Homo sapiens: one gene and its partners. The protein of the gene in region 2 interacts with the protein of the main gene of each other region in a biochemical or structural test. Each region holds a gene or a part of one and is shown on either strand. Other genes may lie near its edges. The genes, in order: SLC16A7, PDZRN4 and DOCK4.

Evidence for each region.
Region 1: the proteins of PDZRN4 (region 2) and SLC16A7 interact in a test that uses a peptide from one of them, tested with the Homo sapiens proteins (one large-scale study listed by IntAct).
Region 3: the proteins of PDZRN4 (region 2) and DOCK4 interact in a test that uses a peptide from one of them, tested with the Homo sapiens proteins (one large-scale study listed by IntAct).

What each region holds. Positions count from the first base shown.
Region 1 is NC_000012.12:59,784,402-59,788,058, reverse strand, and holds part of SLC16A7 (monocarboxylate transporter 2), read right to left. Parts: 3' UTR 1-3,657. UniProt on the Homo sapiens protein: Proton-coupled monocarboxylate symporter. Catalyzes the rapid transport across the plasma membrane of monocarboxylates such as L-lactate, pyruvate and ketone bodies, acetoacetate, beta-hydroxybutyrate and acetate.
Region 2 is NC_000012.12:41,191,196-41,194,852, forward strand, and holds part of PDZRN4 (PDZ domain-containing RING finger protein 4), read left to right. Parts: intron 1-262; coding exon 263-349; intron 350-2,885; coding exon 2,886-2,993; intron 2,994-3,657.
Region 3 is NC_000007.14:111,870,767-111,874,423, forward strand, and holds part of DOCK4 (dedicator of cytokinesis protein 4), read right to left. Parts: intron 1,799-3,657; coding exon 1,701-1,798; intron 1,587-1,700; coding exon 1,503-1,586; intron 1,325-1,502; coding exon 1,224-1,324; intron 1-1,223. UniProt on the Homo sapiens protein: Functions as a guanine nucleotide exchange factor (GEF) that promotes the exchange of GDP to GTP, converting inactive GDP-bound small GTPases into their active GTP-bound form. Involved in regulation of adherens junction between cells.

The DNA of each region.
Region 1 (3,657 bases), about 19 Mb from region 2:
AATAATTAACATACTGGTTTAAAATATCTGGGAGAAGAACTTTTACATAAAAAGCTTCAAATTTAGTCAGTTGTAGCAAGCACTTGAAAAGACCCTGCTCTTTCATCTGCAATATCAGGAATTACTATATCTGACTCATATTTGATTAAGTTACAATCTCATTTTTGTTGTCACTACAAAGAAGGATCCTTATATTAGTAAATGCACTCACTGCAACTACTGAGGCCTGCCTCCTGTCAGAATGACAATGCAGTCTTAGCATACGGGTGTCGGTTTGGCTGAATCTAACCAAACACATCACGTACTACAGATGTTTTTAGGGCCCACCCAATTCATAAAAGATTTTACTGCGATACATGAGTTTACCCAAATTTTTATTAAAATGTGTTTTTAGGGTAAATATCTTGATGAACTAGGCAAACAAATACTGAATGCAGATTACTGTTTTTACAGTTTTACCGGGAAAACTCCTAATAGCAACCCCTCTTCCCCTTCACCACAGATCTTTAATTTAGGTGTGATTTTTGTTTGTTCTCTACATGGGAATAAAGGAGAAAGTTTAGAAAGACTGTATCTAGCTAGATAAGATGCAGAGGTAGATGGAATCTCTAACATAAAAGAAGCTCTAATTACACTGTTGCCAGACAGCTGTTATGGATTTTAGTATTGTTTATTAGGTGAAGAAAACATTCATAAAATAAGAAATTTTTGAGATAGAACTTACTCTAATAATTTCATTAACATATGTTCAGGTTCTTAGATCAAGAAATACTGTAGAGGTGTTCTCCTCAAGACTATGCTATGGCAATAATTTCTTGCATACAATTTAATAATTTAAACTTGAACTGTGTGTTCTGTGCTCTGGCGTTCTACTTCAGAAAAAAATGAACACTGCTTCTAAAATAAAAAGGAACATAAAATAAAAAAGGAATTAATGAGATATTGACATGTTTTCTATTAATACAATATTGATGTTTTAAATGATTTTGATATTGCTATAACAACATATATTGTGCAAAATAATTAATCTCACTAAATATTATTTCTGATTTGCCACGAATTATCTGCCGTGGCAATCAGGAAATAGTCTTCAAAGTAAGTTTGCAAACATGATTTTGCAAACCATGATTGGAAAAATATATTCATTTGGGCTATAAACTATCAAGTAGGGTTGTTATATATATTTCTAGGAAAATATTTTATTTACTCTACAAAGATCATCATTATGACCTTACGGCTTCTGTAGTGCAATGGAGAAAAAAGTGTGTTAGAAGTTAAAAGACCTGAATTCTATCTCCAACCCTGCATTTATTCAGAGTATTGGTATAGGTTTAGGCAAAATCCTTAATCCAGTCTAGTTTTATATGGTAAAAATGTGGATACCTATCAAAACTGAGGGTTGAGAGGATGAAATGAATTCATTAAACATATCTTCTGAGACATAAATATATCAAAACAAATCAAAATACAATTAGATCTAATGTTTAGAAATAAATATTTTAATTCATATTTGCTATTTCACTAAATCTAGAAATACTAATGCTTTAGTTAAATATAGAAAGTTGATGATAGAAAAATAAAATCCATCGTACCATTGAAAAGCTTGTCAGAAATATGTACTCTTGAGATTCGGAGGATGAGAAAAAAAATGTGTACTCTAACGAGGAAGCTATATAAACTGAGTCTAACTCAAAACATTTATTTTAGATGCATATAAGAATTAAAGTCTTAGTCAAAAGAATGTTTTAAAATTTCATCCTAAATTTATGTGAGATAAAATGCCATTCTTTTGTTTTTCTGAACAGAGGAGCTTTTATCAACTTATTCTATTTTATTTTTATTTTTATTATTTTATTTTATTTTATTTATTATTATTATACTTTAAGTTTTAGGGTACATGTGCACAATGTGCAGGTTAGTTACATATGTATACATGTGCCATGCTGGTGCGCTGCACCCACTAACTCGTCACCTAGCATTAGGTATATCTCCCAATGCTATCCCTCCCCCCTCCCCCGACCCCACCACAGTCCCCAGAGTGTGATGTTCCCCTTCCTGTGTCCATGTGTTCTCATTGTTCAGTTCCCACCTATGAGTGAGAATATGCGGTGTTTGGTTTTTTGTTCTTGCGATAGTTTACTGAGAATGATGATTTCTAATTTCATCCATGTCCCTACACGAACTTATTCTATTTTAATAGAATGTTCAGTATCAGTGTTTTCACACTGAGATTCTCTAGCTTATTTTGCCATATTTAAATTAAAAAGAAACAAAAAATCCTGTTTGATCATGTGAAAAATATTTACTGAAATGTGAATAAATTTATGATCATTAATTGCCTACTGAAATATTCCTGAATATTGCTCACCTTATTAACAAGTATATATGGAGACTGAAAAACATGTAGATCATGCAAACAAGTGTAACTAACTATACCAAAGAAACAAAAGTCCATACTAAATATGTCCATAATTAAATAAAAAATGCTAAACAAGTTTTACCTAGATATTATAAAAACATAGAAAGGAAAACATTTAGGAGATGATGAAGAAGCAGGAGATTGGGATGGGAGATGTAATTTGATCTAAATTCCCATATGCTTCTGTAAAATCAAAAATTCATTTTGCAATATTAATTTTGCTCTTAAGGTAGAGACTTTTAAAATGACCATTCTCAATACTACAGCAATTCTTCCCTGATTTGCACATAAATGAATTAAAGTGAAGAAAAAGCAGTAGAGGAGAGAAGACTAAAATAAACCAGATTGTAGCACCCTGTAAAGAGCTAAAATCTCCAGTGTACAAACAACTGATAGGAAAGAAGAGAAAATCAGAACTATAAAAAAGTGACATAAGCTCAGAAAATTACTCATTTTTAATTGTATCAACAAAGATAATTTGTAATTTTGATCATGCAAGCATTATAATTACTGATAATTGGGCCTTTCAGCTTTTAAGTGCCTTCTCAAACATGAGTTCTGCATATGGTTGTGCAGAAATCAAAATCTTAAAGAGAGATGAGTAAAGTCAAGTTTGTAATATTAATCTTATATTCTCAATATAGATGCTAATTAGTGCTCTGAATGGTTGTGGTTAGAAATCTTGTTGGTATGATGTATCAGTGATGTCACTGCATTGATGGAGACAGAATAATACATAATGGTGCAATGTGGTGATGGTAAGCTTTGTTACTCAATATTGTCAGGCACTTTAAGAAAATCAGAAACATTCAGGATAGTGCCAAAGAAGATCAGTTTTTCAAGACTCTAAAATCATATTCAATTATATGTGTATGTAATTATAAATATGTGCATCATGGCTGACTTTGAGAAGAATGCAGCGCCTTGCAAGTGCACTATTTGAATAGAGCTAAGGAGAACTATAGTCTAAGGACTGCAAAAGTCTAGATGGAGAAGACAAAAGCAATGACACTTGTTTTCTCTACAGAACAAATAGACAAAGAGGTGAATGACAACAAAGATGTTCAGAGAAACTTGAAAAATAAGCTACGGTGTAGGGTAAGTTGTATTAAATGATGAAAATTAATATGTAACTGTATGGGTAAACCAAATCATTTGTATCTTATAATCTTTTTTTTGGTAGCTACGGATAATATTATAAATGGAATAATCACTAAAATTCTAAATATAATGTTTTC
Region 2 (3,657 bases):
CTGTCTCAAAATGCAAAGCCATTTAGTAATTTTTGAAAATAGGGCTTTTTCCCCTCACATGCACAGTTGTTCTTTTTCAAATACATACTTGCAAAGTAAGTATAGGAAAATGTCAACCTTCTGCCACATTCAACCATCCTTAATTTTAAAGTTTTCCTCTTTTCACATGTCAGTTAACTTACAGTACATAAAAACTTATTGTAGGATTTATTTTTCTTTTATATTTTTACCTGGTTAAGTCATTTTATACATTTTTTTCTAGGATGGAGAGCATAAGCCATTCACTATTGTGTTAGAAAGAGAAAATGACACTTTGGGATTCAATATTATAGGAGGTCGACCAAATCAGGTAAAACACCTTGTTAATGCATTACTCGTTACTTATAAAATAAGCATTAATAAGCATTACTCATTGCTTATAAAATAATAGAGGACTTAGCTTTTGTTTGTGGATTTTGAGTAAGAAAAACAAGTGGTTTAATCTTTAAAATTATACTTGTGATCAAATATCAGATTTCTTAATGCAAATATTCCAGTACATACCCAGATTTTATTTATTTATTTATTTATTTATTTATTTATTTATTTATTTTGTTTGTTTGTTTGAGACAGAGTCTTGCTCTGTTGCCCAGGCTAGAGTGCAGTGGCACGATCTCAGCTCACTGCAACCTCTTCCTCCTGGGTTCAAGCAATTCTCCTGCCTCAGCCTCCCAAATAGCTGGGATTACAGGCTCCTGCCACCACACCCGGCTAATTTTTTGTATTTTTAGTAGAGACAGGGTTTCACATGTTGGCCAGGCTCGTTTTGAACTCCTCACCCCAAGTGATCCACCTCACGGTCTCCCAAAGTGCTAGGATTACAGGTGTGAGCCACCATGCCTGGCTCTGATTTTATTATTTTTTAATTTTTAAAAATTATTTTCTTTTTGAGTTGGAGTATCACTCTGCAGCCCAGGCTGGAGTGCAGTAGCGTGATCTCAGCTCAATGCAACCACTGCCTCTGGTTCAATTGATTCTCCTGCCTCAACCACCCAAGTAGCTGGGATTATAGGCGTGTGCCACCACGCCCAGCTAATTTTTGTATTTGTAGCAGAGAAAATACAAAATGTTGGCAAAGCTGGTCTCGAACTCCTAATCTCAAGTGATCCACCTCCCTCACCTCCCAAAGTGCTGGGATTACAGGCTTGAGCCACTGCACCTGGCCTTTATTTTTGAGAAAAACAAAAAACAACAGCTAGCAAACTTGGTTCTCTTTGCTACTTTAAAAGAAGAAAAGGAAAGTACATTTCACATTTTATCTAAATTTTATTGTCCTTTTGGCAAATTTCTTGAATAAACCTATTTCACAATACCATGTGTAGGCAATTTCTATTTGATAATATTAGGCAATTGTATTGCCTGCTTAAACCTATTTATTAAGTGCAATTACTCAGTTTGAAGATGCTAATACAGACTAGGAAGAAAATTATATTGAATGAATGAATGAACAGTTGAAACAAGGGATGATTGATTTCAATAGGAAGTACCATGTTAAAGAAAAACAGTTGATTAGAAATATTTTTGGCTCCCCAAACCGAGTTCTTTGTTTGATTGCATGAATAATATTCTTCATGTTGATGTCAATTGTTTTCAAAATGCATATTTTAAACTTATAGAATATACTGTAGTTGCAAAGTTCTTTTATATCTTTGAATTCCTGTGTCAACTTAATTTTCACCGTAACTGGAAAAAGGTGGTTAAGTTTTAAAAAATGATGTTCTTTAATTTTTCTCAATAAACTGCCATGAAATTTTTGCATCCTGCATTGCAGATGTTGTACAAGGAAACTGTCTTAGTGTTGTTGGCCATATGCTCTGTTTAGGTAAGGATGGCAGTGACATATTTCTTCCTTGTTTTTAGTATTTTGAAAACTTAGCAACTAATGACTGCTGTGCTTCTCTTTTTAAAACAGTCCTCATTTATTAAGATGAAAGCCTTTTCATCATAGCATTTTCGTTATCATTTTCCCTAAGGAATATTTTTATAGATTCTATTTTGGTATTTGACATTTAGATGACATCGGGCCTTTTTAAAAAGTCTCTTAAAATTCATGATAAGGACAGCTAAAGAGAAATAATTTTATTTAACCTGTCATGAAGTCAAATGACATTTAAAATTATATAATGTATTATTATAGGATGTTGGATATTTTCCCCTAAATAAGCTTTGACTTCTTGTGACTGGCTAAAATGTCCTATTTTTACCATATTGGCTATGTTTGAGGTTTAACTAATCATGAGTCAGACTGCACCTGGAAATATGTAACGATGAGTTTGCATGGGTTCCCTTTTGCATAGGTTCCCTTGCAGTTTAGATGTGATCTTTTGGGATTTTACACTTGAGTAAGCTACCAGTGTCTCTTGTGAATAGACACAACTAGAGCTATGTTTCTAAATCTGGCACATCAAAAAGCTAAATTACATTTCTAAACTCTACCACATCTCAAACCAGTTATACAGTGGGAACCAGATATATGTTTTTTTCCTTCTTTAACCTTATCACCCTTTTACTTGCTGTCTCTCTTTAGAAGTGAGATGTTTTATAAATAATACTTAAAAGCCAGTTTATTTCACCTTGTACATGCCCTTTCCCATAGCTTTTTTATGTGAACTCAAAAATGTGAAGTAAATAGATAATCTTGTCAGAGACCCTGGACTCATTCATTAAAACTGCCACCTTGATTAATGACTAGTTGGTGTTAAGTAAGTTAAAATTCTGTTCCAAATCCCCAGCTAAGAGAGTTGCAGGTTTACAGAGGATTGGTAATGTTACATTTGGTAAATTGTCCCTAATAATATTTAAATTTTGCTTACATCTTTCTTCTGCTAATGATTTTTTAAAAATAGAATAATCAGGAAGGAACATCGACTGAAGGAATTTACGTTTCAAAAATTTTAGAAAATGGACCTGCTGACAGAGCAGATGGCCTGGAGATTCATGACAAAATCATGGAGGTAAGACAATGATAAAACATGTATATGATCCATGCAAGAAAGATTGGGATATTTTAAGTTTTCAAATTTACCACTTTACCTTGGTGTGGTGCTTATTAGAATATACATTCTTAGTAGCAGTAAAGGCATTATCATTTTTACTTTCTTACAAAAAATGTAAAAGTCACTGGGAGAGGTGGCTCATGCCTATAATCCCAGCACTTTTGGTGGCTGAGGCAGGAGCATCACGTGAGCTTAGGAGTTCGAGACCTGACTGGGCAACATTGTGAGACTTCATCTCTACCAAAAAACAAAACAAAAAAATTAGCTGGGCATGGTGGCACATACCTATGGTCCCAGCTACTCAGGAGGCTGAGGTGGGTGGATCACTCGATGTTAAACCCAGGAGGTCAAGGCTGTGGTGAGCTGTGTGTAGGCCACTGCTCTCTAGCCTAGGCAACAGAGCAAGACGCTGCCTCCAAAAAGAAGTAAAACTCTATTATGATTCTATATAATTCGTTAGATATTGTGATGAAAGAATAAAATGCCTGAAGTTTTCAAATGTGTTAATGAATACCTCTGTTTTAATAACCTGTGTTTCCCATGAACTATGATGTCACTTGCTTGATTATTAAAGGATTAATTATTATAACATTTCAAAAAAGGATGATAAATCTCTGTTGAG
Region 3 (3,657 bases), on a different chromosome or scaffold from region 2:
GAGGATTCCACAAGCCTTATTTGTCTTTTTAAGATCCTGCTTTCCTGGCCAACCGGAAGTGTGAGAAATTATACTCTTGTTTTCTAGCTTCCAAAGACAATTTAACTTGGAAGCAGTAACCTCCTCACACTAGGGCCCAAATTGTTAGGCTGAGTGGGCCGATGTTTCAAAACTATTCCTGCGGTTGCATTTCACTCTCAGCAAAAAATCACACTGATGAAGTGTCAAGTCTAACAAAAATACCTTCATTCATTTCGATGTTGGAGACGTCGATCTTAACCTGTCATGGCTGGGAATATCCAAGTAAACAGGATCAAATGCTTATCTGATAACCTATTAACCTTTATATATTACATAGATGGGGGAAGGATATCAACCTGATTTCATGCTTTTTAAACTCACCTCAGGGAACAGTCAGGCATGTGCATGCCCACAGGTGCTTAAGGTATAAGGTAGAAATATGGGAGAACAGCAAGGACCATATTGGACTGGGAGACAGACGATGGGGTACACTCCAAGGCTATTTAAGCAGTTATTTGTCGAACTAAAAGAGAGAAGCTGTGGCCTCTGGCAATTATCAACTATGTTGAGAGGAGGCAGGCACTAGCCAAAGCATAATATTATTCATAACTTTTCAGCACCACCTGAGCCAGTAGAAAAGGAGGAGCAGTTAAAATAGCAGCTCCTATCAAAGAGTAGATCCCAATGACTAAATTGCCTGAGGCCAGGGACCAGGTCTTCACATCATCAGCATAAAGTACAGTGCCTGGCAAGCAGCTGGCACTCAGTAAATCCTAACATAAATGAATGGATGACTTTCAGCAGGTGTGAAGGAAAAGGTTGTTTTCCATTCATATTTCTTTCTTATGAACATTTATAATCATCAGGGAGTACAGTGATGAAGTGGGACTCTTAACAGCCGAAGTGAGATAACCAGACATTTTAGACCAAAGAATATCCAGTGAAACAGAGACAAGAAGGAAAGACTTTATATTTTAGGGCTCAGGAATAGAATTCAGGAGGTTTTTTTCCCTTTTTAATCAAAATAAGTTCTACCCATTTAAAAAGGGTGTGTTAGCAGGGAAGAGACTATCTCAAGAGACACTTCAGTAGTGCTCCATTTCTTCCTACACTCCCTTTTAAATTTTCCTATATCGCCTCTTCTGCTGAGAAAAGCTTGAAAGGAACCACTTCTAAACTAATTACAAGATACAGGGCCTTACCTGTATGCAAGTGCCCCAGCAAAATGACTCTCAATGTAAGTGTCCATTACAGGTTTAAAATGATGAAATTTGCTATCTTGCAGCAAATTTATTATGTGAACCTAAAAAAAGAAAATTGAGCTTTATAAAACTAAATGCAAATCAAGGTTTTCCTTTTTTTTTTGCTTCTTTTTAAAATGAACTCTTACATTATTAAGCACATGTTTCTGAACCAGCCTCATGAAAGTCAAGATTGAGAGACAAAACAGTTAAAATACAATTAAGGGAATTTGAACTTACCAAAGAATCAAACACTTTAGACCCATATTTTTGGGAATTTTCATCTAAAATTCCAAATAAGGTATCCAGTGTATCCTGCAGAAACTGTTAGATAAAGAAGTAGCAAATGAGTAAATAAGATACTATCTGTCTTTTTCCTCCAAATGTTCTTTATTCTATGAATCTCTGCAAGGAAAATAGTAATGAAATACTATATACCTTTACTATCTCTGAGCCATCAATTTCTTTTAATTTAGAGAGACAGCCAGTGATCTTGTCTGGGTGGGTTCTCCATTTCAAAAGATCAAGCATATCACCTTTCAAAATAGAAAAGGAAGATTAATTGCCTTAATAGAGAACAGGTCCTCACATGAAAGCGTTCTGCTAGTAAAAGTAAAATTCTTAACACATGTGGCTCCCCTCTCCTAGCCACTCAAGTTGCAGGCTCCCACAAACTATGACTAGCCCTCTCTAGGATGGCATTTATTTCACTGTATTCTGTTTCCTCTCCACTGCTCTTGACTTACAAACTCCTACCCATCCTTTAGTCCTCAGATCGGATGTTGCTTCATTTTGGAAGCCTTTCCTGAAATCTCGAGCTAACTGTCCCTTCTACATGCTTCCACATCACAGTAGCACTTACAAATCCTTACAAATCAGGCAGGTGACAAATATTTGTTGATTAATTTTTCTGCCTCCTCCTGGAAAGATGAGAGTTTCTTGAGGGCTGGGAACCTGCTTTATTCCCGTTTGGGTGCCCAGCACATAGCACTCTGCCTAGCAACCAACTCCACCCAGGAACAAAGGTCTTCTTGGCAATGTGACCCAAATCTTGCAGACTAAAAGAATGGTAACAGGCCCAGTGATTTCTTAGATCATCCAGGGAGCTCTCAACCTGAGAAGAGCAGCTCCTGGACTCCACAGGCCATCTTTCATCCCAGAGTCCAGATAAGCACAGGGCCCAGCTCTTTAACCCTTTCCTAAACAGACATGAGGGCTTTGGTCCAGCAGGTCCTTAGAGAACCTCTTCACCTGGGGAGGGAATAAATTTATCTTTCTTGGGCAGAAGTTACAAAGGCTGTGGGAGATGGTCTCCATGCATTATTAGTCTCCAACGCATGCAGGGAGAGGTGGCATCTGGAGGCCAATGAATGCAGTGAGAACTGAAGGCTCGCGTGTGCCGAGCACGCGCAGGGCAGCGGGACCTGGTAGAACTGGCCTCAGGGCTCAGTGGAGTTGCCAGACTAGACTGGCCGAGAGAGGAGCCAGGACAGAATTTCCAGGCAGGGAAGCAGGAAATTTACTTCAAATCACTTGTTTTAGCAGAAACCCAAAAGGGACTTTCTGAGAAACAGAAAGATGATGAGGGAACAAAAACTCCAAACCCCCCAAACCAAGGAAGTAGGTAAGATGAGAAAGAAAAAGAGAATATAGAGAACACCAGTGAGAAAAAGCATTAAGAATCTCAAGGAGAAAGAGAAGCAAGCTCCACCAAAGCCAGATTCAAGAGAAAAACCTCACAAAGGATTTACTATTAATAGTAAGGAATTCAGTACCAAACAGGAATGTTTATCTGCAACAAACACGGGTAAGAGGAGGAGGAGGAATTAGAATGAGAAAAATAAAGTGATTTTAAAAATACTGACTTTGAAAAAGAGATTTATGATGTTTTCATAACCAAAAACCCTGAAAATGTTGACTATTCAGATGTAATTCAGACATCCTGGGGTATGACTGAAACCTTTTAAAACTGATTGGTTATATTTGGCATATCAGATATTTCCACAGAGTGAGACTCAGGGCGACAAAGGCAAAGCTCTATTGTTCTCCCCAGTTTGCTGCTTCCCTCCTACCTACTTCCTACTTCCTGCATCTCACTTCAGGAGGCCTCCCCTCCCTGGCATCTTCTCTTTCATAATCCCTCGTGCATTTCCCCTGCCATTCACTCCTCACTTCCCACTCCACCCCCATCCCAGCTCTCACTCCTCCTTTGTGTTCTCTTTCCCTTCCTTTAAAGTGAGGCAGTTGCAGGGGCCATCAGGACCCTGCTCAATGTGAGGAGTGTGGGGAGGAAGGAGGTGGCTATGCTGGCTACCAAGTGGCAGCAGTGGAGAATGAGGACTAGGGCCCATTTAAGTAGGGCTGGAAAACAGATTACAGGGGTCCAGAAAATGAG